Regions from separate parts of the Homo sapiens genome. Here region 1 is linked to region 2. The links come from fine-mapping of genetic effects on gene expression. A gene starts in region 2. The other region holds a variant in brackets. All regions are shown on one strand. Distances are between the middles of the regions.

Region 1 (16,773 bases), 42 kb after region 2:
TAGCTAGAGTATTCTATTGTGTAGATATACTATATAGTATATTTGATCAGTCCCCTATTGACACATAAATATTTTCCATTCTTGTGCTTTTAAATAATGCTACAATGAGTAATGTTCTACGTAAGATACTTCATATGTGGGTAAGTTGTGCACCTACGTGATAAATTCTCAGAAGCGATATTTCTGGGTTCAACAGTAAATACTATAGGTTTTTGATAAATATTGCTAAATTGTATCCTTTGCATTTTACATCATTTAGTAGATAATGATTCCTAGAAGGTAGAAAAGAAAAATTAGTTGAGCATATATGTTTACCTTAGACATAGATTTTTAAAAATCAGTAATATTATTTTGGGTAGTTTTTTTTATTCCAGATAAAAAAATTTTTTTAATAGGTCCATACTTTCATAAGCTTCAAAATTCCAAAGTTCAAAAAGTATAGGCCAGGTATGGTGGCTCACACCTGTAATCCCAGCACTTTGGGAGGCCGAGGCAAGTGGATCACCTGAGGTCAGGAGTTCGAGACCAGTCTGGGCAACATGGTGAAACCCCGTCTCTACTAAAAATACAAAAAATTAGCTGGGCGTGGTGGCTAGTGCCTGTAATCTCAGTTACTTGGGAGGCTGAGGCGGGAGATTTGCTTGAACCTGGGAGGTGGAGGTTGCAGTGAGCTGAGATTGTGCCACTGTACTCTAGCCTGGGTGACAGAGCAAGACTCTGTCTCAAAAAAAAAAAAGTATATAGTGGAAAAAGTTTCCTCCTACTCAGCTTAATAGTTACCCCGTTCTTCCTGCTAGCCAGTGGCAATTATTAGCAGTTTTTTGTGTGACTACATATCTATATATTCTTTTTTCCCCTTTGTAGACAAATGGTAACTATAACAACATACCATATACATGCTATACCTTGCTTTTTTCATTTAAAATGCATTTTTAATATCCTCTGATAGCAATGAAAATACATTATCTGTTAGGAGTCTACTTTTCCAAGACCAAAAAATATATTGAAGATGAAATTATCTAATTTTGTTAAGTAATTTCTAATTCTTCTAAGGTAGATGAATTCTTTTGTCCTAGTAGCTGCTGATTCTGAGGTTTGCGTGGTGTCAGAACCAGGTGGTTTTGCCCAGGTGGTTTTGCCCAGCTATTCCCCTTTGGCTGTGAATAAAAGTGCAGCATAGCTGGAAGAGCAAGGGCTTTGGAGTTCAACCTGGAGCTGCCATGGCAGGTTACACACTGCTTCTCAGTTTCCTCTGGTGTAAAACACACCACAAAGGATTGTGCTCTGAGGTGTCATGCAGTGATGCTCAATAAAGTGACGAATACGGTTCTGATACATTAGAGAACACTCAGTAAACACTGTTTACTATCAATAGCGCAAGTCTTTTTTTTTTTTTTTTGAGACAGTCTGGCTCTGTCGCCCGGGCTGGAGTGCAGTGGTGTGATATTGGCTCACTGCAGCCTGCGCCCCCTGGGTTCAAGCAATTCTCCTGCCTGAGCCTCCCATGTAGCTGGGACTACAGGTGCATGCCACCACACCTGCTAATTTTTGTATTTTTAGTAGAGATGGGGTTTCACCATGTTGGCCAGGATGGTCTCAAAGTGCTGGCCTTAAGTGATCTGCCTGCCTTGTCCTCCCAAAGTGCTGGGATTACAGGCATGAGCCACCACGCCTGGCCTGATAGTGTAAGTTTTGTTGATACTCAGATGAGGCTGAGCAGATCCCCTTTTCTCTGAGTTATACCATAAACCAAAGGCCTCAAAAACTGGCAGATCTCACCCTAGATAAGAAGTTTCCAAAATCACCCTTTTCAAAGAATTTTTATGGTCTAGTCCTCAGTGCTCTCCATCTAAATTGTGCAGTATGTCTTAGCTGCAGATCCTTTTCTTCTTGTCTTTTCCTCATAGGGAGAGACTTTACCTAGTTGTCTCTTTGTCCCCAGCCTGGTACTGCCCCATCCCTGGAGGCTGCTGTCTTCTCTCTGCTGCCTCTAGAGGTATGCAGATGGGTAGAAGGGCACCCATGTCACCTCCTGAAGGTACAAGAATCTGCAGGTTGTTTCCTGCCCTTAGAGGGAGTCCATGGAAGAAGAGGAACCTTTCTCCTTAATTCAGTCTCAGAGTTTGTAAGCAACCGTGAGGTTCTACTGGCTGTCTTTGAAAGCTTTAAAGATTCTAGAATTGACAGCTCTTAATTTTTTATTGGTGGCACCAAAGTAACTGCCTCATAATAAGAAAAATTAATAATTATTGACTCCCAACCCTTTGAGCTAATTTCTAACAACTTACCTTCTGTGTCTAAGTATCCTATTGGTATGGCATCACACAGTGCTTTTTTTTTTTTCTCTTTTATTTAGACAGAGTCTCACTCTGTCATCCAGGCTGGAGAGTACAGTGGCGTGATCTCAGTTCACTGCAACCTCTGCCTCCTGGGTTCAAGCGATTCTCCTGCCTCAGCCTCCTGAATAGCTGGGATTACAGGCACCTGCCACCACGCCCAGCTAATTTTTTTGTATTTTTGGTAGAGACGGGGTTTTGCCAAGTTGGCCAGGCTAGTCTTGAACTCCTGACCTCAGGTGATCTGCCCACGTTGGCCTCCCAAAGTGCTGGGATTACAGGTGGGAGCCACCGCGCCTGACATCACACAGTCCTTGACCCATCAATTTTCTCTCTTTATGTGATTCAGTACTAGGGTTTGAGGGATCTTGTAGCTGAAAATTTTACCAACCTGGCTTTAGTCCCTCTCCAGTTGATCTCATTATGTTGGAGACCCTCTAGTTGCCATTTATAAGCAACCAGATAGTCTAGGAATTTACTAGACTTTCTCATACAACTTGCTGCTAGGGGCATGGTGTGCTAGCATATGAAGTAAAAGAATGGCCACAAAATCTAGTTGTCTGCCTGACTTCTTGTGGGTATGGCTTTCTAAGAGACCAGACTAGAGACTGACCTAGCAGAGATATTTTTTCCCATTAGGAAAGTAAGTCACAACCCAACCAAAATTTCAGAATTTTTTTTAATTTTAACTTTTTTTCCTATAAAAAAAACAAAGACCAAAAATAGGCACTTCTTATTTAATGATGAGAAGTTGCTTGTTGACTTACAGTCTAGAATGTGTGCATCTTGCTTTCTCTGCATCCTGCACTTGAACACTCCACCTTTGGGAGTGTGGCTGAGATTCCCACTCCTGATTTCTTTTTCCTTTTAATGATCTCTGGCCCTCTGGGTCTTCTGGTGCCTGGCTCTCCTGAATGTCATGTTTCTACTTTGTAGACTGTTCATCTGTCGAGCAAACTAAGGGGTACACTACCCTGCTCCTTTTCTCTCTTAACCTGTAACATTCTCCTCTTGAGGCTTTACCATTGCTCAATTTCTGCAGGCCTTAGACCATAGACGTCACCTCAACTGTTTACTGTTTCCCCACAGTAAATTCACTGGTCTGTGGACACGGTAGATTAGTTCTCCTATCTGAGCATCATGCTTAAGCAGAGTAAATTAGGCTATATTTACCTTTTCAGTAAAAATGCTATATTGCCCATTTATGGTTGGTTATACTTGGTATAAGATTTCTCTGCATGTCTGAATACTCATGTTGGACAGTGTTTGCATGTGCTTTCCTGTCCAAGAGGAACTCTTAAGTGTTGTCTCATGGAACTCTGTATTTGTACTGCTTCCCAGAGTTGCTTTGGTGGTAAATTTGAACAAGTTTCAGATCAGTTTACATCTGGGCCCCTGAAAAAAAGAGGTCTTATTATTAAGTGTAAACAGTACCCACATGACATTACCAGATTGTTTCCCTGAATTGTCTCAGTATGTTTACTGGCATTCATAAAAATTTTCAGGAAAAAGAAAATAGTTTGATTGGAATTACCTGACACTATGTTCATGGTAGAGATCAAGATCCAGTGAAACACAATGAAATTAGATTATGAATTATCTGTTTGTTATGCTCAACATGCATTCTTTCCTTAGTTTATGAGAGCAGGGACCTTATCTGACTCATTTACCAGTATATTCCCAGGGCCCAGAATCATGCCTGTCATAAAGTAGGCCTTCAGTAAATGTCCTGCACTGATAGTAAAGTTGACCTTAGTAATGATTCATTCATTCATTAAATCTTCCATTTCAGAGTTTTCATCTCTTCAGCTTCGTTCAGTCTTTGCCCTTAATGTGGTTTTAAACCTTTTAAGATTACATTTTAACTGGGAAGCTGACAGTTGAATAAGAAAATTCTTAAACTGTGACATAGCTTGTCTGAGTTACCAGAGCACTTAGCTGTATTTTAAAAAACTAAATGCTTATATTTAGTAGACAGTTCACATAAGCTTTCTCCTAAAATTGAAAACATACTAGGTAGCAGAAGAGAACAGAGCCACCTTCAAAGGTGAAAGATCATTGTTTTTTTCTATTTCAGGAAACTAGCTCAAATATTTTACATAGCTTTTTAAAATCTGAAGCAGTGTAGCAGATTCAAATCTGAGATATGCCACTTACTAGTTGTGTAACTTCTGGCAAGTCACTTTAATCTTAGCATAGGTTGGTGCAAAAGTAGTTGCAGTTTTTGCCATAAGAAAAGCAATTTCAAAAACCTCTATTACTCTTGCACCAACCTAATAAGAATGTTTTTTCATCCGTAAAATGGGAATAAGAATAGTTCCTAAATCACAGGATTGCTGGGAGGATTAAGTGGGATAGCCTATGTTAAACAAATATAATTAAGATAAATGTTACCTATTATTATTAACTGAAAGCATTTTTAACAACTTTCTCATGAGAAACAAGCATATGGGAGGTTCATCTTAAAAGAGATTATGCTGTATTTCAGAGGAAAACACTTACCATCTTACTGTTTTATCATTTTTAATAGTTTTATTTGAATGACTCATTCCTATTTGCATAACGTAGGCTTTTAACTATTCAAGGAACAAAAGGAAGCTTTATTGTTTATAACCCATTAAAATCATTCCTGCAGCTCATTAAGGGAAGGGATTATACCTGTTTTGTTCACCACTATAAGCCTGTTGCCCAGCAGGTGACCAGTATGTATTTGACTAATTAATTAATTCCTGATTAAATAACAGTTTTGCCAATTAGTCTGGCTGTGAAATATAGCTATCCCATTGTTGAGGCAGGGAATCAGCAATAGAGTTGGATTAAACAGGATGGTTAATTATGTTTCTAACTAGTGTTTTCAGACTTTAGCTAAAATTCACTATCAAGTACGTACTTCTTTCCTTGGTGATATTGTGAAAATTAGAGAAAGCAGAAGAAATCTGGCAGTAATAGGTGCATCCTTTAATATCTAACCAGTATCACTGCAACTCACCATAACCTTTCTAGTTCATTCCTAGAGTATTTTAAATACCTTTTATTTAAAATACTGGTGCGGCCAGATGCTGCTCCAGGAGATGGGACACATTTTTATTTAGTGAAGTCTAAATTTATTATATTTAGAATTTCTTTTCTTCATGAATCAAAAAGAATGTCCCAGGTATTTATATTGTAGTTTATCAATTTTGTGTTTTTATGCATTTCTCTCTCCAAATTTAGAAGTTTCTTAAAAGCAGTAACTGTGTCCAAAATATTTTTATTCCTTATCAATCCATCATAGTGAATTTCAGAGTGGCCCCTCAATAAACACATGTTGAAATGTTTGCTAAGTGAGCCTTGTGGCTACTTCCAAATTTTTCTTCTGTAACCTGAAAGCCCAGGACAACAATTTCTATGGCAGTGCTACATTGGGTAATTTTTTCTTCCTTTCTTTTTAAGCATGCTAGGAACTTACTCTGATGAATTTGGGAACCTAGATTTTGAGCGATCCCAGCATGGTTCTGGAATGAGCAACAGGTCAACAGCGAAAAGATTTATTTCTGCTCTCAACAACGTTGCTGAAAGAACTTATAATAATATATTTCAATTTCATCAACTTCGGCAGATTGCCAAAGAACTAAACATTCAGGTATGTTAAACTAGTTAATCTCTTTTGTAATAATTTCAGGAGGTCCTTGTTAATATATAGTAGAACAGAAACAGTTTTTACTTATTTAAAATTCATACCTGCTTCTTCTCAAAGGTTTTCAGCATCTTGATAGTCAGAGGGAAACATTGTAGTAAGACAGTCTCTATGTTTTTCTGACTGTCTCTTGTGGATATGTCATTTTAACATCTTTTAACGTTGCATCCCTCATCTGTTAAATGGACATGATTATACCAATTCCTACTTCAAAGTTCTCGTGAAAATCAATGTAATAGCACTTCAAACATGGGCTGTTACACATTATGGAAAATTAACTTCTTAATTTCAAAAGTTAGCTTGATTTTTTTCAGCTAACCTAAAACAAATGTAAAATATTCTCTGCATATTGGAATTTTTACTTTTTATTTATTTAGGCATTATAGAATCCAGAACTCAAATATAGGCAGTTTGCTCTGTAAGAAATAAAAATAATTTTATTTGGCCAAGAAACTTTACAGGTACATATTATTATTTGAGAGATTTATTTTAAAAGTAATATTTTGACATGTTACTTAATGGGCTAAACCTTTTGATGTTTTCTTCCAGGTTGCTGATTTTGAAAATTTTATTGGATCACTAAATGACCAGGGTTACCTCTTGAAAAAAGGCCCAAAAGTTTACCAGCTTCAAACTATGTAAAAGGACTTCACCAAGTTAGGGCCTCCTGGGTTTATTGCAGATTAAAGCCATCTCAGTGAAGATATGCGTGCACGCACAGACAGACAGACACACACACACACACACACACACACACACACACACACACACACAGTCAAATACTGTTCTCTGAAAAATGATGTCCCAAAAGTATTATAATAGGAAAAAAGCATTAAATATAATAAACTAATTTAAGAAGTGATAAAGTCTCCAGATGCAGTAGCTCACACTGTAATCACAGTGACTCAGGAGGCTGAGGTGAGAGGATTCCTTGAGGCCAGGGTTCGAGACCAACCTTGGGCAACATAGCAAGACCCCATTTCTTAAAAAAAAAAAAAAAAAATTTAAACTTAGCTGGGTATGGTGGCACATGCCTATAGTCTCAGCTACTTGTGAGGCTGAGGCAGGAGGATTCTTTGAGCCCAGGAGTTTGAGGTTACAGTGAGCCACAATCACACCAATCACTGCACTCCAGCCTGGGCAATAAAGTAACTCTTGACTCAAAAAAATAAAAAAAATTGTAGTGGTAGCCATGTGTTAATTGTTAAATAAATTCTCCAAAGGGCTAAAAGTAAATTACTTATAAATTTTTTATAGTTGTATTTTTGACCTGCCTTTTATATGTATGAATATTTCATAGTTTTGCATATCAGATGTAGGCATACAGACAAATACATAAACCAATGAATATATTACATATTCTGTGTTCCAATAAAACTTTATTTATGGACACTAAAATTTGAATTTCATAAAATTTTCCCATGTCAAGAATACAAAATACTTGAGTTTTGTTTTTAGCTATTTAATAATAGGTCTCATTTATTCCACAGGCTGTAGTTTGTAGTCTTGCTTGAAACAATAGAAACAGACTGATTAAGCAGGAGAAGTTTTTTGAAAGAATTTTGTTTGGCTCACGGAATTATTAGAAGGCAGGTGAACCAGGAGGGTAAGCTTCCAGCAGCAATTTGTAAAACCATGCCTTAGAATTGGACTAAGGAAGAAGCTGCTGACACTCCACTGCCACACAGGGCACTGGAAGAAAGTGCTGCTGCCTCCCTGCCCCACCTTTGCCACTTCTGCAGCAGGAATAGGTAGAAGAATGCCCCCACCCGCACCGGAACAGCAACAAAAGGATTCTGCATGAGATGCCTCCCTAAATTGCTGAATTCAAAAAAGAAGTTGCATACAAAGACATCTGATTGAAAAAGGGTATGTTATATGCCCCTTTCATAGGCTGCTAGGGAGTTTTCCTGGTTCTACTTTCAGGTGGTGGGATCAATAAGACCAGAATTTCTCATATGTTGTGAGAGGATTCAAATGTTACAGGGTTGCCAGCCAAACTATCAATCATGTATAAATCCAACAAACACTTTGTAACATACAAGAACTCAGGAAATGTGAACCATTGTTGGAGAATCTACTAAAATACGGCTTCCCGCAAACGAAGATGAATGGAAAATGTAAATAAAAAGAACTGGCAGTGTATATCAGATGTTTAACTATAGGACCAGAACTAAGATGTGGAGACTATTGCCATAGACCACAATGTAAATTTTTAAGTGAGGAAGGAAAAATCAGGAATCAAAAGGGGCCAGGTGCAGTGGCTCACATCTATAATCCCAGAGCTTTGGGAGTTCGAGGCAGGAGGATCACTTGAAGCCAGTTTTGAGACCAGCCTATGCAACACATTGAGACCCTATCTCTACAAAAAATAGATTAGCTGGGCACGGTGGTGCATGCCTATTGTCCTACCTACTGTGGAGGCTGAAGTAGGAAATCACTTGAGCCCGAGAGTTTGAGGTTACAGTGAGCTATGATTATACCACTGCACTCCAGCCTGGGCAAGAGAGCAAGACCTTGTCTCTTAAAGAAAAAAAAAAAAAATGGAGAAAGTAGATAGTAGTATAAATATAGTGAAGTCTTTAAAAGCTAGGAGTTAAAAGATATTTAAAGCAAATAACTCAGGCATGGTGGTGTGTGCCTGTAGTCCCAGCCACTAAGGAGGCTGAGGCAGGAGAATCACTTGAACCCGGGAGGCAGAGGTTGCAGTGAGCCAAGATCGTACCACTGCACTCCAGCCTGGGCAACAGAGTGAGACTCTTTCTCCAAACTAAATAAGAGATATTTAAAGCTGAAAAAAAATCTATTAATAGAATTTAAAACATTTCACAAAAGTCAACACATAAATAATATCAACCAAAATAAAGTGGTAGACAGAAGAGAAAATATACTAATTTATTGTTCAAAGAGGAAAATAAGTCTCAAAGGTTAAGGCTATTATATAAATTTATTTTTAAAAAGACATAAACCTACATTTTCAGAAGAAGAAGTTCCATGTTTCCTTAGATTATGTATTTAGCATCCATTAATCACAGGGCCAAACTAACAACAAAAGTTGTTTAGCTTTCCCTTACAATCCAGCTTTTATGGGTGTGCAAACATCACATTACAGTCCCTCCAACCACAAACCCCAACATATAGTATTTCACTTCCTGCCCAATAGTGGGTGTCCCCACACCTTTCAACCACTGTAGCAACAAAGCTCTGGCCTAGGCTTTTCACTTGCTTCTTTACTGCCTGACTGACTTTGGTGTTTCCTCATGTGGCCTGGTGTGGCATGGCACGCCCTCTTGGGAGATGAAAGTAATCTTCCATAGGCAATTGTTTCTGTGTCACCATTGCTGATTAAAACAAATCCTAAGTACAAATGTCAGAACAGAAACATGCAAAGCAAGAAAACATTACATCATGAAAGTTTCTTTTTTTTTCTTTTTTCTTTTTTTTTTTTTTTTGAGACAGAGTTTTGCTCTTTTTGCTCAGGCTGGAGTACAGTGG[C/T]GCGATCTTGGTTCACCGCAACCTCCGCCTCCTGGGTTCAAGCGTTTCTCCTGCCTCAGCCTCCCAAGTAGCTGGGATTATAGGCATGTGCCACCATGGCTAATTTTGTATTTTTAGTAGAGACGGGGTTTCTCCATGTTGGTGAGGCTGGTTTTTAACTCCCGAACTCAGGTGATTGCCTGCCTCGGTCTCCCAAAAAGTGCCGGGATTACAGGCGTGAGCCATTGTGCCCAGCCAAAAGTTTCTTTTTCAAGAGATGGTGGTCTTGCCATGTTGTCCAGTATGGACTTGAACTACTCAGCTCAAGCAGTCCTCCCACCTCAGCCTCCTGAATAGCTGAGACTACAGGCATGCACCACTACACCTGGCTGCGAGATGAAATTTTAAGAGATGGGGGTCTTGTTCTGTCGCCCAGGCTGGAGTGCAGTGACATGATCAAGCCGTGATCTCCTGGGCTCAAGCAATCCTCCTACCTCAGCCTCCTGAGTAGCTGGAACTACAGGAATGCAACACCATGCCCAGCTAATTTTGATTTTTAGTAGAGATGAGGTCTTCCTTTGTTGCCCAAGCTGGTCTCAAACTCCAGGGCTTCCTGAGTAGCTGAGACTACAGGTGTGAGCCACCATGCCCAGCCTCCTCTCTTTTCCAATATTGTGTTAAGTAAATTGTATTGGTGGTAATCAACTTGATCATTTCATTTTTAGGATAGAGATATCAAGGTGAGGGTATAACTGAACGAGAAGAGGAATAAACACCACCCTGTGATTGATGGATCTTTATAGCTCTCCTTTGATAAAGAAGGGAAATATCGTACTTACATTAGCATGTTATAGTTGCTGTTGTTATACAGAAGAATATTAAACAATATTCATATATTGTTTATGAATGCATTGAATTCATAAACAATGGTATGGATATTGACTAGCCAAAGAGGTGGATAAATGTAGATACAATGATACGGTGATTTGGTATTCAGTGTCCATTCTGCTCTCCTAGTGTGCCTTCCTATAATGCAGGGGCTGGAAGGTGAGAAAATAACCACATTTCCCAGACTCCCTTTGCAGGTAGATTTCCAGATGTGAATTGGGTTCCACTGATCAGACACCCATGTGTGAGATTTGGAATGCAGAACTGAGGAGAGAGCCATCTTCCTCTTGCTTGTGTTCTGGTGGCATGTGTGGTTGAGGAGACATTTAATTTCCCTGCAGCAGAATTCTTGCAGTCAGTTGTTGAGGCAAGTGGCGTGGTGGATGCAACCCTGATTCTTCACCTTTCTCATTATTGTGGGGTAGCAGCGCCTCTGGCAAGCCAGACAGACCTGCAGTGTTTTTCTGGGAGTTAATTCTGGAGACCCAGTATGGAACCCACTCCTAGCCCTTGTGACAATATTGCAAGCATCCAGTTCCCTGTTTTACAGTCCTTTTAAATGTGGCTAGCTACAGTAGTTTGTGTTTCCTGCAACTAATCACTCATACATCTGTATCTAAAGCACTCCACCTGGGTCATGTACTATACTTAAAATTATAAGGCAATATTAATTCACAAAACTACCTACTCGTTTTATTTAACCCTCAGAAGAACTGAAAACAAAAGCTATACCAGGCTTGCTCTAGAGCGTGGGCTTGGGAATGGAAAGGCAGAGTGCACCTATTGAATTCCATCATCAGTTTTTCTATACCATGGAGTTACTTACCATGTGTATACATAACACTGATTAAAAATTTTAAAAAAAAGGTTAAAACAAAAACTGAGCCAGATTCTGACATTTAAATCAGAATTATTCTTAGTACATAGACTTGCAAAGTCACTGAATAATTCCTTGGGACTACAGACTCTTAGTCTTTGCTTCTAGAAATGTATAGTAATTTCAACATGTCATATATATAGAGAGAGTATATATGTGTATATATATACACACACACACACACTATATAGAGTATATATATACACTCCATATACAGTATATATACTAGTGTGTATATATATATACACTAGAGTATACACACTCTAGAGTATACACTCTATAAAGTATATATATTATATATACTATATATTATATATACTATATACTCTACAGTATATATATACACTATAGAGTGTATATATATACTATACAGATATGTATAGAGTATATATACTCTATATATACACTATATATAGTCTATATACTCTAGAGAGTACAGTATATATATATAGTGTATATATACTCTATGGAGTGTATATATATTCTCTTTCTCTCCATATATATATATATAGTAATCAGCTTCCTCAGGTTGAAACATCTAGATATATTGAAAACACTGGATAGTCTGCAAACTCCTCTTCCTTAGAGAATGTATATTATCTTTAGTATTAAAGTGACTCTTGTAAGTCCTGAGAAACACCTCGGAACACTGCATTCACGTGTTTGCTAGGCAGAATAGTACCCACCCTGCAAGACATCACATCCTAATGCCCAGAACCTGTGAATGTGTTAGGTTACATAGCAAGGGGAAATTAAGATGGCTAATCAGGTGACCTTAAAATAGGGAGATCATCTTGGATTATCTGCATGGGTCCAATATAATTAGAAAGAACCTTTAAAGTGGAAGAGGGAGGCAGAAGAGAGCCAGAGGAAGATGTGACTACAGAAGAAGGCACGGATGCAGCATTGCTGGCTTTGCAGATGAGGGAAGGAGGCCTTCAGCCAAGGACTGTGGGTGGCTCTAGAATCTTTTTTTACATCTCAGTATGTATGCCACAGTTAAGGTTTTTGTTTTTTTATTTTTGAGATGGAGTTTCGCTCTGTCATCCATGCTGGAGTGCAATGGTGAGATCTCGACTCACTGCAACTTCCGCCGCCGGGGTTCAAGCAATTCTCCTGTCTCAGCCTGAGTAACTGAGATTACAGGTGCGTGCCATCATGCCCGGCTAATTTTTGTATTTTTAGTAGAGACGAGGTTTCACCATATTGATCAGGCTGGTCTCGAACTCCTGACCTCAGGTGATCCGCCCACCTCGGCCTCCCAAAGTGCTAGGATTACAGGTGTGAGCCACTGTGCCCAGCCTCACAGTTAAGGTTTTTAAACAATCTGATTTAACTGAATAAAAAATGCTCGCTTGTGTGGCGACATGGTTTTTAAAAATGTAAACAGAGCTGGGCATGGTGGCTCACATCTGTAATCTCAGCACTTTGGGAGGCCAAGGCAAGAGAACTGTTGAAGGTCAGGAGTTGGAGACCAACCAGCCCAGGGAATATATAGGGAGACCCTATCTCTTAAAAAAAAAAAAAATTACCTGGGCATGGTGGCATATGCCTGTGGTTCCAGCTACTCAGGAGGCTGAGGCAGTAGGATTGCTTGAGCCCAGGAGTTTGAGGCTGCACTGAGCCGTGATCACACCACTGCATTCCAGACTAGGTACAGAGCGAGTCTATGTGGAGTGCAATGTCTCTAAAAAAAAAAAAATACCCAAAATATAAACAGGGACTATGAGGTATGTACAGGAAATTAATAGCTGAAGAATATTTTACCATGTTCAAAAACTAAATTCTTCATGTGGCTGAGAGAAGAAAGAAAAAAATGGTATGTTTGTGTTCCATTTGCAGGTATTACATAAACCCATTTTAAATGAACTAAAATGCCTAGGATTTGGGGGGGAAAAATTATCTTGTGCTCGCATTTGAAGGTTCTTCTCAGAAATAAACTGTTTAAAGAGACCACAGTACTGGTTTAATTTTTTTTCTGCAGGACCAGAGGGAAACAGGTGGTTTACCATTTTTGGAAACTCTGTCACATGATCTGAATAGAAAGGATAGTTGGATGTAACGTTAAAGCTTTCTGAACCAGCAATCCCCAACCTTTTTGGCAACAGGGACTGGTTTCAAGGAAGACAGTTTTCCACGGACCTGGATGGGGGAATGTTTCGGGATGAAACTTCCACCTCAAGTCATCATTAGTTAGATTCTCATAAGGAACGCACAACTTAGATTCTTCGCATGTGCAGTTCACAGTAGGGTTCACCCTCCCATGAGAATCGAATGCGCTGCTGACCTGGCAGGAAGCAGAGCTCAGGTGGTGATGCTCGCTTGCCTGCCGCTCGCCTCCTGCTGTGTGGCCTGGTTCCTAACAGGCCATGGATTGGTACTGGTCCACAGCCCAGGGGTTGGGGACCCCTGTAACAAAAGGAAAACAAGATTCTTAAATCTTTACAGGAAGGAGGAATGGAATGGAAAATAAAGCTAGTTGTACACTAAATGATGTTAACAATCCCTTTATCACCTTTAAAATATGAGCAGAGAGGAAAGAAATATTAAAACCAACCCTTTTTACTTTCTTATTTGTAGATAATGCCTGCCTTACGAGAATGTTATTTCTTTTAAAGGTTCCAAAACAACCATATAAAAACTTAGTAATGACTTAATTGTTCACATATTCTAGTGACATCAGTACATTTTCAGGAAGAAATGTGGAAAGGTTGGCACTAGAAGTTGACATAAGAATTAGTTTAGCCAGGTGCAGTGGCACATGCCTGTAGTCCCAGCTACACAGGAGGCTGAGGCAGGAGGATTGCTTGAAGCCAGGAATTCTGGGCTATTATAGTGTGCTATGCTGACTGGGTGTCCACACTAAGTTCGGCATCAACATGTTGATCTGGGAGTGGTGGACCACCAGGTTTCCTAAGGAGGGATGAACCTGCCCAGGCCAGAAATGGAGCAGGTCAAAATTCCCGTCCTGGTCAGTAGTGGGATCGCCCCGTGAAAAGCCACGGCATTCTAGCCTGGGCAACATAGTAAGACCCTGTCTCTTACATAAAAAATAAAATAACAAAAATGAAAAGGAGAATTAGTTTAGATCTCTTGATAATTTAAACAGTAATCTAAATTATAGAGTTTAGGTGGAGTTAATCTCTGCAAGTCCTGAGGAGCTATGCCCAAGGTGCTTGGCCCTACCAGCAATGCACTCTTTTGCTTACATGTGTTTCAAATCTTAAATCCCATCATTTAGTTTTTTCCTATTTAGGCTGTGGGACGGTGCGTTTATTACAATGATTGAAACCTGTGCCTTATTTGGATTACTGGTTATTCAAAACACATCTTTGGGTTTAGTGCCTGGTAATTACAGCTTACTCCTGTAAGATTTAACTGTCATTGATTCCTAGAGAATTTTTTTTGAGACAAGGCCTCGGTGGGTCACCCAGGCTGGATGGAGTGCAGGGGCACAATCTCGGCTCACTGCAACTTCTGCCTCCCTGGGCTCAAGCGATCTTCCCACTTCAGCCTCCTGAGTAGCTGGTACCACAGGCACCCACCATCATGCCCAGGTTTATTTTTGTATTTTTGGTAGAGATGGCGGGCGGGGGGAGCCGGGGGGTACGGTGTGCGGGGCAGGGGGGTGGGGGGGTGGTCCTCACAGTGCCCAGGCTGGTTTCGAACTCCTGAGTTCAAGCAGTCCACCCACCTCGGCCTCCCAAAGTGCTGGGATTACAGGTATCAGCCACCATATCCAGCTGTTTTAATTTGATTTAACTTCCAATCAATATTTACATAAGACTCATTTGCAAAACTGCCTTCTTTACATTATCTTCTTCTGGTTTTAGGAAACAAAAAGTAGCCCAAGTTTATTGTGTCCTAGACTAAATAACACAAGTAACACTACATTACACTGCATATCTGATATAAGAACGCAGTACACATATTTCTAGACTTTGTTCATTTATCCCCAGGCAGAAAATATTCATAATAGATTTGGAATAAGATTTTCTTCTCAAAAAGCTTAAACTTCAAATAGAAGTGATAAGTGAGAAAGAATGATTGGGTTGCAGAATTTTCAAAAGCCTAAAAACAGCCTGGGCATGGTGGCTCACACCTGTAATCCCAGCACTTTGGGAGGCCGAGGTGGGCAGATTACTTGAGGTTGGGAGTTCCAGACCAGCCTGACCAACATGGTGAAATCCTGTCTCTACTAAAAACATAGGAGTTAGCAGGGCGTGGTGGCATGCGCTTGTAATCCCAGCTGCTTGGGAGGCTGAGGCAGGAGAATCGCTTGAACCTGGGAGGCGGAAGTTGCAATGAGCCGAGATAGCGCCATTGCACTCTAGCCTGGGCAAGAACAGGGCGAGGATTCATCTCAAAACAAAACAAAACAAAACAAAAAAACAAAAACAGAAAGCCTAAAAACAGGTTCCAAGAAGTTGTAGCAAAGAGGTAATTTGTTCCAATATACAGCACAGTCATACACAGCACTTTGCAACTTAACCAAGGAAAACATTAAAAGTGGCAAGACAATACTACCCTCTAGGGGCCAAATTTTTATGTTCACAACTCAGCAAAGGATCAATGAAAGGATGAACTAAACAGTTAATAACAGGCCAGTTATTCAAGATTGAACAATCCTTTCTCTTTTCACGTTCTCTTGGGGTAAGCACTACATGATTGACTACAGAAGTTGGGATAAGACACCTGACCAGTACATTTTGGTTACTTATGAAAATAATTCTGATACAAGGGTGGAGAGAGAAAAATTTGAAATGAACTTCATGAAACGTAGAATTTATATATAGATTTTTATTTATATTTTTATTACAGACTTACTATTCTAATTTTTTCCCCATTTGGGAAAAAAGTTCAGTGACAGATATTCCCAGTCCCTTCAGACATATGAGGTGCCTGTGTGTTTAATCTACTTGGATAGAAATTATTACAGAATTCATAAAACAGGAAATGAACATTATAAACCAGTTACTAACTGTAGAATATTTTGGTTTCCTCTGCCCCCTGCCCTGCTCTAAACTCTACTTCACTGGGTTTCTGCATTTTCTCCATCCTTTATCCCAGATTAACCTGTTCATTTATTGACTTCTGTCAAGTTCTAGAAAATGAGATCAAAGACTGATAGCTGGATGTTCTCCCGTCTTAAAATGTTAGGGAAACAGTTTGTTAAAAGCATGTTACTCTTTAGTCATAAGTATTGAGCAGTCATTGTCTTTCAGGCCAAAATGCCAGCCACTTTATTTTCCTACTTTTTAAAGACAATTAGCCATCAGCAGTTTGTAGTAGAGCTGGCTTTTTAAATACAAAACAGTTTATTATATTTTAATTGGCGGACTCTATTGTATCTTGGAGTTTTTTTCTCTAATTTTATATTGAAGTGAAAAATAGGAAGAACATAAAATTTGCTACATAGATAATTTTGGGGATGTTCTATTTTAAACATTGATAACAGTATAATTCCATATTTTGAAATATACAAAAAATATATACAACTAAAATGGTATCTAAAACAGAAA
Region 2 (16,773 bases):
GGTTTGACTCAAAACTTTAACAGTATTTAACTTCAAATAATTACTTGTGTTTTAATTAATAAGATACTCTCAATGTTCATTTTAATAAATATAATTTTAATTAACAATAACAGCTTTTGGACAAGAGGTTGTTAAGAAATAATAATAGTAATAGCTAAAATTATGGGCCCTTACTAAAAGCAAGACACTATTCAGAACTTCCTATGAGTCATATCATAGAACACTCAATACAACCTAGGCATTAAATGTGTTTATGACCCTATTTTACATATATAAGGATATAAGACTCACAGAAATCAAATAAGTTGCCCAACGGTACAAGGCAAGTGATGAAGGTAGAAATTGAACTTAGCTGGATCCAAAACCAGACCTCTTAACCTCTACACCATATGCTAACCACCTCACAGCTGTTACATAACTTCTGGGCACTGAAAGAACTTTACATTATGTTCTTGCAATGACGCAGCAACGACTCATAGGATTAAATGCCTGGCCCAAGAACAGAGAACCATTTAATGGTGGGCTGGAGCCAGAATCCAGGTTATCTCATGGCCAAAGGCAGTACTTGCTTCACTCCACTGAGCTGCAGTTCTTAGATTATGAGTTAAGATTTCTTTTGGGATAGCATGGCCTAGCACTTGGGAATTAGGTGGAGGCTGAGATGTTTCTGACTAGTCAGTTGGAGAGCATCTATTTCACGCATCCAAAATGTGCACCTGCAGTAGGCTCTTCCCTCTTCTTCTTGGGCTGTAGACTTCCTCCACTGGTCACTTCAAATGCAGTTCCATAACTATGGCCAATGACGTTATCCAGGTAGAACCACTGTTTTTCGAAAGTTACTTTTCTAGGGAAAAAAAGTAATCAATTAACTGAATATCTTTTCTATCCAGTACAGAAAAGACATGTTCACTACAGTTTATTTCAAAAGTGGTCTCCACAATGGATGATCAGCAGCATTATCTCTGAACATAAAGCAACAAAGGAACTAGAGAGAACCTGGTTGGGATAGAGACGTAAAATTAATGAATAAGCCACAAGAACACTGAATTTTGGAAAGGGGAAGCAAAGACTCATCGAAGTAACAAGGATTTAACAAATTTCTTGGGCTTGGTCTGATCGGCCATTTTATTTGAAAATTATCTAATAAAAGCAAATTATACTTGCAAATAAACACTGACAATCTACACACTTGGAAATGGAGCCTAACACTGACAATGCTCTACTGAGGACCAGGCAACTTGAGGTTTCCTATGACATAGATTTTTTATCTTATTGCAATTTAAAAGAGAAATCCCACAGGAACACAATGCTTTCTTCTCAAAAGAAAACTAACATCTGCTGAGTGCCAACCAGGGGCTAGGCAGTGTGTGCGAGGTGTGATTCACACTTTTTGATTTAATTCTCACGGTAATCCTGGGACATAGCTCTTTCCAGAAGAGCAATCCGAGGCCCAGGGAGAAGTATCTTGTCCAAGATTCACAGTTGCAAGGTGTTGTTGGAGCTGGGATTCAAATTCAAATCTGTGTCTGACCCCAAGCCTCATTCTTTCCACTATACCACACGGTCTACTCCAGCAAAGACCTAAGGACGGTAGAAAGCCCACCTAGCTTCAGGACATGGCCCATGTGCACAGAACACTGAATTCTGGGAATCATGTGGTGGTTAATTCTGATTGTGCCCCATCCCACTCCTTCTCTTCCTTTCTCTGTGCCACCAGGAAGCTGATTACGACAGAATATACTGCCACATCACCCACGCTCCCGTGTCAGAGGCTTACCACCATTGCTGGTCTCTGGGTGTGTCACCTTTATTGGTTCCCTAAATCGGCCACACTTTTGAGTCACATCTTCATTAAAGCTTACTCAAACCATCTGAGGGAAATCCTGTATGATCGTAAGTGATTCAGATATGGCCAATTCTTGTTATTTGCTGGGTCCCTAGATACTTACATACAACAGAATGTAACAGACACTCAAAATATTTGCTAATGTAAACCTCCTCAGATGTTGCAATTCAGCTCAGCCCAGATGTGCACCCCCTATCCTCATCCTTTAATCACCTAGGTGCTTTGAAACACTGGATCTGGCCAGGTGTGGTGGGTCACACTTGTAATCCCAGAACTGTGGGAGGCCAGGTGGGTCACTTGAGTCCAGGAGTTTGAGACCAGCCTGGCTGACGGGGAAAAACTCCGTCTCTACAAAAAATAAAAAAATTAGCCAGGTGTAGTGGCACACACCTGTAGTCCCAGCTACTTGGGAGGCTGAAGCAGGAGGGTCACTTGAATTCAGGAGTTTCTCTACAAAAAGTACACAAATTAGTTACTGAGGAGGCTGAGGTGGAAGATTGCTTGAGCCCAAGAGGCAGTGGTTGCAGTGAGCCAAGTTCACGCCACTACACTCTAGCCTGGGGGACCGAGTGAGATCCCGTCTCACAAAACAAACAAACAGACAAACCAAACAAAAACACTGGATCTGAGATGGGTGGGTTTACCTCTCTGAGAGCCTATGTGATATGCAGAGGGGATGATGCGTGTCACTTAAAACTGGCTGGTTTGACAGGTCACTGCCCCAGTCGGGAATGTGGGGCCCCGTTAGAGGGATAAGGAGGCCACATCTTTACTGGGAAGGAGTAGGATTTGCAGAGTCTACTTCTCAGAGAGCCTGGACTGTTTTTTGCCCAATCAGATGAGTGTAGCCCCAAGGGTGATGAGGGAGTCTGACCTGGGATGCAGCTGAGCTGAGAGAGTCATTTCCTAAATAAAATGGAAACTGCCACTATGACTTCTGCGAAGAAGAGGGCCTGTTGAAAAGTATTTCCAAATAAATGTTTAGGGCAGTGGTCTCCAACCCTTTTGGCACCACAAAAGGGGAAGGTCAACTACTGTTCATGCCTGTAATCCCAGCACTTTGGGAGGCTGAGGTGGCCGGAATTACTTGAGCCCAGGAATTGGAGACTAGCCTAGACAACATAGTGAAACTCTGTCTCTGCAAAAAAAATTAATTAGTTTAAAAAAGAAAAAAAAGAAGAATTTAAAAATGGTTAAAGGTTGGTGCAGGTATTACATTTCCGGACTAAAAGAAACATACCCCTCATAAAAGAAACTTTTTATCTTTACTAAATTAGTGCTTGTGCAAAAAGCTTGGTTATCACCAGCTTAGTGCTCTGGAGACTTGTTTCTTGACTATTTTATGATGCTTGCTTCACCTTAAATACCAGTCAACAGTTTGCTTAAACCAGGAGTAAAAGAATTCATCTGAAGTAAGTACTTATCAGAAATTCCAAATCTCATACTTCCCAGTCTGCAGAAAGCTGTTCTCCTGACATTGCATTCAACTTATCTCTGTCAAAAGTAATACAATAACCTAGCTCAAAAGAAACTGTGGCCAGGTGCGGTGGCTCACACCTGTAATCCCAGCACTTTGGGAGGCCGAGGCGGGTGGATCACCTGAGGTCAGGAGTTCGAGATCAGCCTGGCCAACATGGTGAAACCCCGTCTCTACTAAAAATACAAAAAAAAAAAAAAAAGATTAGCCGAGTGTGATGGTGCCAGAGTCCCAGCCACTAGGGAGGCTGAGGCAGGAGAATCGCTTGAACCTCGGAGGCAGAGGCTGCAATGAGCCGAGATTGCACTACTGCCCTAAAGCCTGGGTGACAAAGCAAGACTCCGTCTCAAAAACAAAAACACTGTGGTTGTATTTCTCAGATAAATTAATCCAAATATCCCAATAAATTTTCACCATTAATAAGCTCTTAGGACTTAACAACCTCACCAGCCCTTCCAGAAAGTTATCAAAATCCCACTTCTTTACTTCTATAAAACAGAGCGATACTAGCCAGCAGGTGCACAAACCAAACCTAATTTGGAGTTCTGAGGCCTTGAGCAAATTGCTTTTTAGCAATTTTCCCAGCGTTGAATCCTTTGGTGAGTAAAACGAGGGAAACTCAAAGTGATTCCACACTCTGTGGTGAATTGTCTCCTTCATCTATTCTGTGTATCCTGCTTGGGTAGAGAAGAGGATAGAAAGCCAGACTAGGTAGGAGACGTTTCATTTTTTGTGGGATAGATCCTGACTGGGGGATTAGGGAAGAAGGAGGATCTATGGTGGAAAAAAAGGGGGAACCTGAAGGAGACTCTGGAGACAAGGATGAGATCCTAAAGTGAAGAAAGGAGGGGGTGTCTCTGGAAAGACAGTGAAGATCCCAAGGTCCTAGGGAAAGAACTTCAGGACAGGTGATTAGGGTGTGGAGAGGGAGGCATTGGCACCCTAGGGCCAAGAATGGAATTCTGGGGAAGGAACTCTGTGGAAAGACTGAAAAGGATGCTGAAGGTGGACGGCCAGATATGAAATCATGGAGGGGGCTCCGGGAAAAACAGGAGGGTTAAGGGAGATTATGAGGTTCGAAGACGGGATCCTGGTGGAAAAGCCTTCTGTGACAGAAAGACCCGAGGAGACAACGAGGGCGGGGAATGGGGACCGAGAGAGCCAAGAATGGCACCCTGGCGGAAGAATTCTGTGGAGAAACCTGGAGGGAGGGGGTATCTACAAGGTGGGGGCGGGAGACCCCTAAAATCAGCGATCTGACTTACTTTCTCCGCTGGACTTGTACTGCTTTAAACACATCTTCACGTTTCAGCACCACGAAGTCGCCGTCGCGGATGCGGTGGTCTCCGGGATGCTGTGGTTGTGGGCCCGGCTGCTCCCCTGAGCCCTCCATGACGCTCAGCCGGTCGCCGTGCTCCACGGCGTCCCGCCCCTCCTCCTCGGTTGTCGCCACCGCCAGCCTCACTTCCCACAACCTGGCGCACTAGGAGCCCTCCGACCGGCACCGCCCCCACGTGTTGCACGCCGCTTCCGCTTTCCGGCCCAGACCTCAAGACCGCTTCCGGAAGCCTCTCGGCTTCCGTCTGGCCAAACTCCTTGATTGGCTGCACTCCGCCCCGCCCCTCTCGTCTTGCCGCTTCTTTGAGCGGAAGTTGGATCACTGAAGCGCCAAAAAAGAATTTAGGGGAAGACCTGATTTTCGCTTGAGGCATTTTTGCGGCGCTGTGCGCTACAGACACCTTCTGGAAGCTGCGGTGGGGAAACTGAGTTTCCCGAGCCGTTGAGACAGATGGGGTTCAGCACCGCGCGGGGACGACAGGAAAGCTGCGGCTGAAGAGAACTGCGGACTTGGCAGGAGTCGCCTGAGGAGCTAAGATCCCGGAGACTCTTAGCCCCGTGGTGCTTCTCTACGGGAGGGAGGGAGGGAGAATCCGGCCGGACAGATCTGCGCGTATCCTGGAGCCGGCCCAGTTGTGAACTAGGAGAGCTTTGGGACCTCTGTCCCAAGCAAGTAAGAACTTTAGCCTTAGGAGATGTAAATAAAGTAGTATTTGAAGAAGCACAGGTACCCAACTGTTTCTTTTTACTCTTTCTCCAGTCCTACTTCTTAACGTTTTTTTGAATTTGTTACTGTTCTCAGCATATTGTCTCGTTTGAGAAGGGTATGGCACGCAGCGTTGTTGAAGGAGCGCCTCAGCTTGGGAGGCTGAAAGTTTTATCTCTGTACTGTCGACAAACAACTTTGATCTTGATCGGTTTGCTTAATTTCTTTGAGCATCAGTTTCATAATGTGTAATGCCTAATTATTGGAGCCCTGTCATGCCGTTAAATCGTGAACTTTCTAGTTACTATCTTGTTTTATTAACTAAACCCCTTTTAAGTAAGGATTTGGGTAGAGTATTTGATAATGAATTGCACTGCAGCGTACAGGTATATCTTTATTTACTTGTATACTTAGGATATGAATCATTTTTAAGTAGACGTGTATTTTATAAGAACAGTTTTGGATTTACAGAAAAACTGCACAAAAAATGGATGTGACACTGCAGGATTGACTGTATGTAAGAAGCTATGATGATGTATCCCTAGTGTCTCACAGGCCAGAATTATGTTCATCCTGTCCTGCCCTATAATAAGAAGTCTCAAATACTGCAAATAAGTTTTCATAGAGTTAATTACCTGTCCTATTTTCATTTCTGTAATGGGGACTTGTAAACAGGTACAGTACCTGTCCTTATTTTTAACCTGTGAGCGTCTAGTATACGTAAACCATATTTAATAGTTATTAAACTATTATGGTATACCTTAAAAAGCGATAGAGATTAGAAACTTAACTGCAGAATATTTGGGTCTTGTATCATAGCTGTACAACTTTGCAAGCCTGTTTGCTACTCTTGAACCTAGAATACATTAATTTTTCCCTTTTTATTAATACATTTTTAAGAGCACTATTTTCCTTACAGTTTTGGTGAAGACCTTTTTAATATCTATCTTTTAGGAGAGATGAATGGAGAGTATAGAGGCAGAGGATTTGGACGAGGAAGATTTCAAAGCTGGAAAAGGGGAAGAGGTGGTGGGAACTTCTCAGGAAAATGGAGAGAAAGAGAACACAGACCTGATCTGAGTAAAACCACAGGAAAACGTACTTCTGGTAGGTGAGGTCAATGATTGTTCAATTTTTTTCACTTAAGGAAGCAATTCACGTCTATCATACAAGGCGGTTTATCTCATACTTCAGTTTGTCTTTTATTTCATGCTACTCCTTAGTAAGTATTTGAACATTGATGTCCCAGATTTTTACTAAAACCCCTAATTTGGATACTCTATTAATGAGAGTCTCATTTGGAAAGAGAAGCATATTGGAAAAATGTTCACTCTGTTTCTACTAACCTAGTATTTTATTTTTTTCAGAACAAACCCCACAGTTTTTGCTTTCAACAAAGACCCCACAGTCAATGCAGTCAACATTGGATCGATTCATACCATATAAAGGCTGGAAGCTTTATTTCTCTGAAGGTAGGGTTTAAAAAGTACAAAAAAGCACCATAAATCATATTTTCTTAACTTGTCTTTGGATGCTACATCTTGTATTACTGTAATTCATTTACTAACATATACCTGCTTTAATCTTAGTTCACCCAAACAATTAAATGATGTTTATGTTTCAAAAGCATTTTAGACTTTATATCAGTCAGGAAAGCAGAAACCATACTAGGTATTTCAAAAAGGGGACTTAATACAAGAAATTGGATACAAAAATGGAAGACTGAAAGAGCAGAAAGGAAATATTGAGGTAACTCCCCAGAAAGTAGTAATTCAGGAAGCAGCAACCATCCTTATGGCTAAGAGACTAAAAGAAGTTCTGAGGTTACCAGAATGTGGGAATTCAAAGGTTGGAGAGGTCACAGCATAGCTGTTATTTTGACTTTTGAGGGGCACCCTACAAAGCTATGCTTGGACTTCTGAAGGCTACCTTACAGAGCTGTGCTTAGACCACTAAGGCAAATGAAGCTGGTTGCCACTGGTAACTGAGGGGGCATGACTCAGTGGTGCTTGGAACTGGAGGCTAGCACTATCGTTATCTTCTGCAGCTGCAGAGATGCTGAAAAGAGTTGGAAACAAGAATAAATTCCTTTCTCTTCCTGCCACCTTCCCGTCTCTAAAGTGCCTTCAATTGGCAGAATTTAAAGAGAATCTGAGACATGTAGGGTACAGATCTGAATTATAGCATCGCAGAGCAGGAAGTAGAACAGTGGGCCTGAAATCAAGGGACAATAACAAATACAGCTTTGTGTAGAAACACAGGTAAGGAATCTCCCTTTGATAATTAGGAATACCAATTAACCTACATCAGTCTGTATAGGTGCAGGGAACTGTCTTTTTTGTGCTGTTAAAATACCCATTTGTTTCTTATGTCTCATGAGGGGTGTGTGTGTGTGTGTGTGTGTGTGTGTGTGTGCATACTTTTTATTTTTTTTTGAGATGGAGTCTTGCTCTGTTGCCCAGGCTGAAGTGCAGTGGCGCGATCTTGGCTCACTGCAAGCTCTGCCTCCCAGGTTCACGCCATTCTCCTGCCTCAGCCTCCCGAGTAGCTGGGACTACAGGCACCCGCCACCACGCCCGGCTAATTTTTTCTGTTTTTAGTAGAGACGGGGTTTCACCGTGTTAGCTAGGATGGTCTTGATCTCCTGACCTCGTTATCCGCCCGCCTCGGCCTCCCAAAGTGCTAGGATTCCAGACGTGAGCCACCGCACCCAGCCGCATACTTTTTTTTTTTAGGAAAACTAGACGTTTGAGGTCCAGGACCCTCCCTGCCCCATACCAGGCATGCAGTAGTCATTTTGTGAATGAATAGAGTACTTTACAAATGTTTTCTTTATTGGAAATCTGTTCGTTTTTTTCCATCAATAGAATCTGTTTCATGAATGATCTTTTGTTCCTTTAGGATGTATTAGCCACCAGCACTCCCATTGCTCCCCTAGCAGATAGCTCAGAACACTATAAGTGATCTTTGGACAGTCCTAAAGATGGAGTTCAAGAGGTGCCTTAGCCTTCACCATCTGTGCTTCCAAACTACTTTATTGTACTGTTCTTCTGTGAGAGACATATTTGAAAATGTAGAACTTTAGAGTGTTAAAAAAAAAAAGGCTTTTCAGTTTTGCCACCAGGGTCAAGTGTTGGTCTGTCTCCTGATCTCAGGAAAGACTGTGATTGTGATTGTCTTCAGCTCTGTCAGAGTAAGAGCTTAGTTTATGTGTCTGGCTTTGGCTTTATTATAATTTTTAGTTTAAGCTTATTGTCTAAATTATCTGAACTAACATGTCCTATTAGGTGTCAAAGATGCAAAACAAAGTTTCCCAGATAGTGGGGCTTTTAGAGAGAGAGAGTTTCTGTCTGCATTTCACATTATGCAAACCTAAATTTGTTTTAGAATCTTAAGTTTACATTCTATACTAGTTCTTATATGAATGTAATCAAAATACAAAGCAATTAGAAAAAAATCATCTACCATGTATATAGTGCTGCTTTTGTCTCATGAAAAATGTGCATGTACCTGTGTGATTATTTGTGCTAATGCCATATTTGTTGGATTAGTTTACAGCGATAGCTCTCCTTTGATTGAGAAGATTCAAGCATTTGAAAAATTTTTCACAAGGCATATTGATTTGTATGACAAGGTAAGATTCCTCTACAGCAAAGCTACCAGTCATGTGCCATCTTACCAATGTATTCGAGGTACTTGTGATTATGATCGTAGGCACTGGAGTCAGACTTCCTTGGTTCAGACCTCAGTTCTGCCACTTACCTGCAGTATGGACTTTGATTAATTACTTCTCTGTGCCTCAGTTTTCTTTCATTTGGAGATAGAGGTATAAATACCTACCTCAAAGGATTGTTAAGAGGCAGTAATACATTAATATATTTAAAATATCAGAACCATGCTTGGCACAAAGCTTATACTTATGTCATACTTACCATTATCACATATAAACATTGTATGCTTTCTCAAAGTCTATAATAGAATGCTCAGTTAATGGTAATTGACTACAGAAAAGCAATTATTGTTTTCATACTTTTATATTTTATAGGATGAAATAGAAAGAAAGGGAAGTATTTTGGTAGATTTTAAAGAACTGACAGAAGGTGGTGAAGTAACTAACTTGATACCAGATATAGCAACTGAACTAAGAGATGCACCTGAGAAAACCTTGGCTTGCATGGGTTTGGCAATACATCAGGTAACTATTTGTCTTATGCATACTTTTGTCTAAACTTTTTTAATGTTTGCACACACATGCACACCTTGTCTAAGTTTAAAGGAAGATTTTACAGTGACTGTACTTTCTATAAGAGATACTTAGCTTTTACGAAAAGATGTTGGCTAGAACTGAGAGGTTGCAGTTCCGTTCTGAAAGATACCATTCATTCTATATACAACAGCTTATCTAAATGAAATATTTACCTCCAACTTATTTGGATTTGCTTAATCTTGCTAAAGATTGTGCAGAAATTAAACTTTGCTTTCAAGAAGTTATACAATCTCATAGGGAAGATAAAACAAGGAATCATGGTGTTATCGGTTATGAACTTAGAGCAAAAAAGAGCAACCTTAGATTTAGGTTCTGTGGCATGAAGCAAACCACTGAGTGTCCCTGTATATCAAATGTAAATAACAGTTTGTACTGTGCTTGCCTGAGTTTTTTTTCAGGGTCAGGTAATACAACATATATGAAAACATTTTTAACTTTTTAAATTTTTTAAATTTATTTTTTATTTATTTTTTTGAGATGGAGTTTCACTTTGTTGCCAGGCTGGAGTGCAGTGTCATGATCTCCGCTCACTGCAACCTCTGCCTCCCGGGTTCAAGTGATTCTCTTGCCTCAGCCTCCCGAGTGGCTGGGTGCACCACCATGCCCAGCTAAGTTTTGGAGTTTTAGTAGAGACGGGGTTTCACGATGTTGGCCAGGATGGTCTTGATCTCTTGATCTTGTGATCCGCCTGCCTTGGCTTCCTAAAGTGCTAGGATTACAGGCATGAGCCACCTTGCCCGGCCAAAAACATTTTTTAGGCTAGCAAACAGATACATGCTTCAAGGTAATGAATAGCAAATCTCAGGACAGGCATACACAAAGTGCTGGGGCATTCAGAGGGGCATTCTTCTACCTCTTGCCTGTGCTGTCCATTCAACATAGAATCCCCTTCCCTTCACATGGACAGATTATTTGGGCCTAGCTCAGTTGTCTGTCTGTAAAACCTTTCTCATGACCACTTTTCGAAACTTGCATGGTATTTTGTCTGTACATCTTTATGGTCCTTATGACAATTACAGCTGTATATATGCATCTTATTTTGCCTCTTAGGTTGCCAGCAAACTGCTGTGTACAAGTGGTATTAAATGTTTGTTTGTTGTTTATTTATTTATTTATTTTGAAATGGAGTTTTGCTCTTGTTGCCCAGGCTGGAGTGCAATGGTGTGATCTTGCCTCATTGCAGCCTCAGCCTCCCAAGTAGCTGGGATTATAGGCATGCACTGCCACACTTGGCTAATTTTTGTATTTTTAGTAGAGATGGGGTTTCACCATGTTGGTCGGGCTGGTCTCAAACTCCTGACCTCAGGGGATCCACCCACTTTGGCCTCCCAAAGTGCTGGGATAACAGGTGTGAGCCACTGCGCCCAGCGTGTTTATATTATTTAATGTTAAATGCCAAGGGAGTGAGTATTAGGTATTTTAAAGGTCATTTTTATTTTCTGTGTCTTGATTGGTCAGTGAATATAGAGAAATAGGAATGCATTTTTTTTTTTTTAATTAGTATCAAGAGGTGATGGTTTTGGGGACTAATGTAAGGGCTTTTAATGTTAGGTTTAGTTGGGACAGAAAGTAGCAGACTGGGATGCTGGAGTTTTTCAGCACAGGGACAGCAAAATCCAATGTAAAACATCCACTATAAAGTAAGTAGTCATAATTAAATATTAGATATTTAAAGGGCTGTTAAAGTTTTCTGTTTTTATTCTGTTTCTGTCCATAAACTTTATATTCTCTATAAAAATAGAGTTCTGTATAAAGAGGATGTTTTGTTTTCCAACTTCAGAGTAAATGTCTGTCCTGTTTAGGTGTTAACTAAGGACCTTGAAAGGCATGCAGCTGAGTTACAAGCCCAGGAAGGATTGTCTAATGATGGAGAAACAATGGTAAATGTGCCACATATTCATGCAAGGTGAGGAATTTGATGTATTAAAGTATTACTTAGAATGGGACATTGAAGGCCATTTAAGAATGAAAACGCTCATTTTATAAAAATGAGGAAATCAGTAAAAAGGACATGAGTTCCTTGCCATCTCATTGATCATCACACTGAAATAAACTCATTGAAAATTATTCAAAGACATCATGACAGATACTTCCTAAATAAGGAAGAAAATGTTGATTTCCTAACCTGCAGATTTTTGTAAACATTGGTTTTGGATGTGAACTTATCAAGACCCTGCTGTGTAAGTTTAATAATCCATGTATGGGTTGAGTATCCCTAATCTGAAAATCTGAAATCTGAAATGCTCCAAAATTCAAAACTTTGAGCCCTGACACGACACTGAAAGGAAATGTTCATTGGAGCACTTCAGATTTTTGAATTAGAGATACTCAACTAGTAATATTGCAAATATTTGGAAGTCCAAAAATTCCAAAATACTTCTGGTCCCAGGCATTTTGGATAAGGGATATACTCAGTCTGTAATACACTAAGTGTTCTTTGTTAAATTATTAGGTTTTTGTTAGATACAAGGGAATAATGAAATTATTTTGTTTTTCTTGAATTCATCTTTAAGATTTTAAATTCATTAGAAGAATTCATTATAAGGTAATCATCAGCATTTTGTTTTTCTTTTCCAGAATTTATAGAAGAAAATTTCCTAGCAGTTCTTTAAAAAGAACTTAGAAACCCAAAGGTTTTTGAATCTGTAGATTTTCCTTTTGGCATTATTTTTTTCCTTAAATTTCTTTTTTCTTTTTTCCTTGAGAACAGCCTGTGAGACAAGAAGAAAAAGGAAGATTTAGTGTTGTTTCTTGTTAAGAATGGTTTGGCTGGGCACGGTGGCTCATGCCTGTAATCCCAGCACTGGGAGTCCGAGGCAGGCGGATCACGAGGTCAAGCGATCGAGACCATCCTGGCCAACATGGTGAAACCCTGTCTCTACTAAAAATACAAAAATTAGCTGGGTGTGGTGGCACACACCTGTAGTCCCAGCTACTCGGGAGACTGAGGCAGGAGAATCACTTGAACCCGGGAGGCAGTGGTTGCAGTGAGCCAAGATGGCACCCCTGCACTCCAGCCTGGCAACAGAGCGAGACTCCATCTCAAGAAAACAAAACACAACAAGAATGGTTTAATTCTTGTGATATTTCTGATATATCGAAGGGATGATTTGATTTGAGAATTCCATAGTTGCTCCTAAAAGGAACTTGTGAAAATATAAAAAACATCAATTTTCTGTTCATTACTTCCTGTTTTGTCTTTAGGGTGTACAACTATGAGCCTTTGACACAGCTCAAGAATGTCAGAGCAAATTACTATGGAAAATACATTGCTCTAAGAGGGACAGTGGTTCGTGTCAGTAATATAAAGCCTCTTTGCACCAAGATGGCTTTTCTTTGTGCTGCATGTGGAGAAATTCAGAGCTTTCCTCTTCCAGATGGAAAATACAGTCTTCCCACAAAGGTAATACGTTCTTTAACTGCTTCTTTATTTATCTTGGTAAAGAAGGCAAATCAGAATACAGAAAACATTTCCCAGTGTTTCTGAACACAGAGCTTATTTTTATTTTTTATTTTCAATTTTCTGCTTTTATATTATGAAATACTTCAGGGTAAGAAAAATACAGAAATAAATAAAACATTCCACTACTCATCACCCCGAATTTACATTTTTCAGCTCCGGACACATTTTTTAATGATATAAAGCATTACTGGCACAATTAGTGTCTGTTTTTTACCTATACCATTCCCAGGGATGATCATTATCCTGAAGTTATTATAATATGCATCCCTTCCATTCATATTTCTGTTGACTTCTAGGTATACACACCAAGTTTTTTTTCCCCTTTATTTCTTCTACTATTTAGAAGTGATGGGTTTTTTAAATCTTTATTAGCCTTTATTAAACTGGATTTTAAAACTATAGAAAAGTGCAGAGAATAATGTAATTAACATTTATCTACTCTATGATTTGGCAAATATTAATATTATTTTAGCTTAATTTGTAACAAAAATATGGTTATATAAAGTTGAAGTCTTTCTGTTCTCAGTTTTATTCCCTTTATTTGCTCCCTAGATGCAACCACTATGCTGAAATTGGCATGTATTCTTCAAGTTTACATTTTTATTCTTGACTACATGTGTAGAGTTAGTTTTTTGTATTGTGTTTACGTAAATGGTATCCTGAATGTAACACGCAGCTGTTTTTTTATTTGGTTATTTTGTAGTTCTACCTATTTTAATACATATCAAATTCTTTCATTTTTACTATTGTGGAGTGTTGCTTTAAATAAATAGCCACAATTTATCCATTTTCCTGGAGGTAGACAATTGTGCTCTTTCCAGTTTTTTATAAGAACAAATGATACTGCAGAGAACATTCTTGTACATGTCTCCTTAGCAGAGGAATACTAAGTTGTAGGCTGTACTTTTTTTTTTTTTTTTTTTTTTTTTTGAGACGGAGTCTCGCTCTGTTGCCCGGGCTGGAGTGCAGTGGCGCGATCTTGGCTCACCGCAACCTCCGCCTCCTGGGTTCAAGCAGTTCTCCTGCCTCAGCCTCTCGAGTAGCTGGGACTACAGGCACGCGCCACCATGCCTGGCTAATTTTTGTATTTTTGGTAGAGACAAGGTTTCACTATGTTGGCCAGGCTGTTCTCAAACTCCTGACCTGGTGATCCGCCTGCCTCAGCCTCCCAGAGTGCTGGGATTGGCCGGCTGTACTTATTTTTAACTGTATTAGATGTTACCAAATTACTTTCCAGAGTATTGTTCCCAACTTAAATCTTTGCTGGTAGTGTTAAGTAGTTACCATTTCTCTGTCTTTTCATTAACACTTGGTATTGTTAGACTTGTACATTTTTGACAGTTTGTTAGGTATAAATAATACTGCATTTATAATGTGAATTTTTCTGATTTCTGTTGTGGTTGAGCATCTTTTCATATCTTTACTGGCCATTCAGTTTCTTTATCGAATTTTCTATTTATATCTAATGTTCATTTTCCTGTTTATTGGTTTATTCTTTAATTTTGTTTTTTAGAGATGGGGTCTCATTCTGTTGCCCAGGCTGGAGTGTAGTGACATGATCATAGCTCATTACAACCTTGAACTCCTGGGCTCAGGTGATCTTCCCATCTCAGCTTCCCACGTAGTTGGGACTACAGGTGCCAGCCACTGTGCCTGGTTCTATTAGTTTATTGATAGGAGTTCTTTATACATTCTAGATACTAATTATTGTTGATTATATACATTAGATATTTTCTCCCAGTCTTTGGTTTGTCTTTTAACTTTGTGGGTTTTTTTGTTGTACAGTTTTACATTTTGACATGATCAAATTGTTGTCTTTTCCTCCCTAATTTGTATATTTTATGCCCTGCTTAAGAAGCCGTTCTTCGGCTGGGCTTGGTGGCTCATGCCTGTAATCTCAGCACTTTGGGAGGCCGAGGCGGGCAGATCACCTGAGGTCAGGAGTTGAAGACCAGCCTGACCAACAGGGAGAGACCCCATCTCTACTAAAAATTCTAAATTAGCCAGACGTGGTGGCACATGCCTGTAATCCAAGCTACTCGGGAGGCTGAGGCCGGAGAATCGCTTGAACCCAAGAGGCAGAGGTTGCAGTGAGCCGAGATCACGCCATTGCACTCCAGCTTGGGCAGTAAGAGCGAAACTCCGCCTCAAAAAATACATAAATAAATAAGAAGCCCTTTTCACTCAAGCATTATAAACATATTTCCTACATTGCTTCTAAGAATCCTAAGTTTTGTTTTTTATCTTTAGATCTTTTGTCCATCTGGAATTTAAGCCATTGGTGAAGGGCATAAAACTAGGGATTTAAGCTGGGCATGGTGGCATATGCCTGTAGTCCCAACTACTCAGTAGTCTGAGGCAGGAGGATCGCTTGAGCCCTGGAGTTTGAGACTAGCCTGGGCAGCATAGTGAGACCCCCATCTCTTAAAAAAACAAACTAGTGATCTAATTTTTAGGTGAAAAGCTATTTATCCTGACACCATTTATTAATTAAGCCCTTGTTACCATGGATGTATAATGTTTCCTCGGTGGTACCCAGAGTCATCGTTATCACCATTGGGCTTTACTAAATTTAACATTTGCTAAATTTTTGCTCATGTGAAGGGTTGAATCCTTAGTGAGGTAAATAGTCCCTTGAAGAATTAAAAAGGGAAACATAAGATGTTTATGTTTGAAATTCCTAAGGCTTCTTTCTCTGACTGGAAGAAGAGGGTATGTGAGATTCAGCTATTGGTTCTGAATAATCAGTGGTGTTGATAGATGGGTTTCATCTGGTGTTTGTCTTGGCTTAAGGTTCAAGGTATAACCTTTAGCTTAGAGGCCAGAATTTAAATCCTGATTTAAACCAGATATTTTCTTCCTTTTATTTTGAAGACGGGGTCTCACTCTGTCACCCAGGCTGGAGTGCAGGGGCATGAATACAGCTCACTGCAGCCTTGACCTCCTTAAATCAGATATTTTCTAGACAGTATTTGTTCAGGGTATTTTCATGCCCCCTAATAAATTAGGTAGTAGCATTGACTCATGTGTGATGTCGTGAAGAGGTCCTCCATTTGTCTGAACTGTGGGGCTTTGAAGTGACAGAAAGATGGCTGTTTCAGTTGATCTCTATTCCCGCCACTATTGTTGCGTAACACATCACTCCAAAACTCAGTGGCCGAAAATAAAGCCAATCATTTTATTAGTTCTCATGATATCTGTGGATCAGGAGTTTGGAAGAACTACTCAACTGGCTAGTTCTGGCTCCAGGCCTCTCATGGAGTTGTAGTCAGATGGTGGCTGGAGTACAGCAAGGTGGCTGGGGGCTGGCCAGGCATCTTCTTCTCCATGTGGCTGTGTGGGCTAGTTTGGGCTTCTTGCACACAGTATAGCAGCTCAGGCACTCAGTCTGCTTATATGGCTGCTGACAGGTTCAGGTCAAGAAGTGCAGTTGGTAGGCAGAAATGGCCTTGCCTTTTGTGAGCTAGTCTCAGAAGTCGTGCAACATCACTGTGTCACATTCTGTTGGTAACAAAGTGAGTCCCAGGCCTTCTCAAATTCCAGGAGAAGGAATTAGCCTTCATTTCTTTTTTTTTTTTTTTTTTTTTTTTTTTTTTTTTGAGACGGAGTCTCGCTCTGTCGCCCAGGCCGGACTGCGGACTGCAGTGGCGCAATCTCGGCTCACTGCAAGCTCCGC

Direction of the effects. Alleles are on the strand shown, and positions count from the first base shown. SD is a standard deviation of normalised expression in the study named.
As copies of T replace C in region 1, the expression in thyroid of the gene that starts at base 4,963 in region 2 goes down (moderate effect, 0.69 SD a copy in GTEx).

Evidence for each region. PIP is the estimated chance that this variant, and not a neighbour inherited with it, causes the effect.
Region 1: its variant is the best candidate, but not a certain one, in a credible set for the expression of MCM8 in thyroid (GTEx, PIP 0.88).

The regions. Positions count from the first base shown.
Region 1 is chr20:5,987,738-6,004,510 of GRCh38, forward strand. It overlaps MCM8 (minichromosome maintenance 8 homologous recombination repair factor), which reads left to right. Exons shown (of 19, transcript NM_032485.6): 18 at 5,769-5,958; 19 at 6,562-11,240. The coding sequence ends at 6,654. It overlaps MCM8-AS1 (MCM8 antisense RNA 1), which reads right to left. Exons shown (of 5, transcript NR_110101.1): 2 at 13,539-13,660; 3 at 12,784-12,938; 4 at 6,057-6,187; 5 at 3,058-3,731. It also overlaps the pseudogene RN7SL498P. Among named protein-coding and RNA genes, the nearest start is that of MCM8-AS1, 9.7 kb to the right of the region's middle. The variant C/T (reference allele first, on the strand shown) is at 9,508.
Region 2 is chr20:5,945,690-5,962,462 of GRCh38, forward strand. It overlaps MCM8 (minichromosome maintenance 8 homologous recombination repair factor), which reads left to right and starts at 4,963. Exons shown (of 19, transcript NM_032485.6): 1 at 4,963-5,334; 2 at 6,322-6,474; 3 at 6,735-6,839; 4 at 8,919-9,001; 5 at 9,413-9,562; 6 at 11,437-11,540; 7 at 12,839-13,037. The coding sequence starts at 6,327. TRMT6 (tRNA methyltransferase 6 non-catalytic subunit) reads right to left here and starts at 4,844. Exons shown (of 11, transcript NM_015939.5): 1 at 4,589-4,844; 2 at 717-844. The coding sequence starts at 4,716. RefSeq lists an enhancer at 4,840-4,979.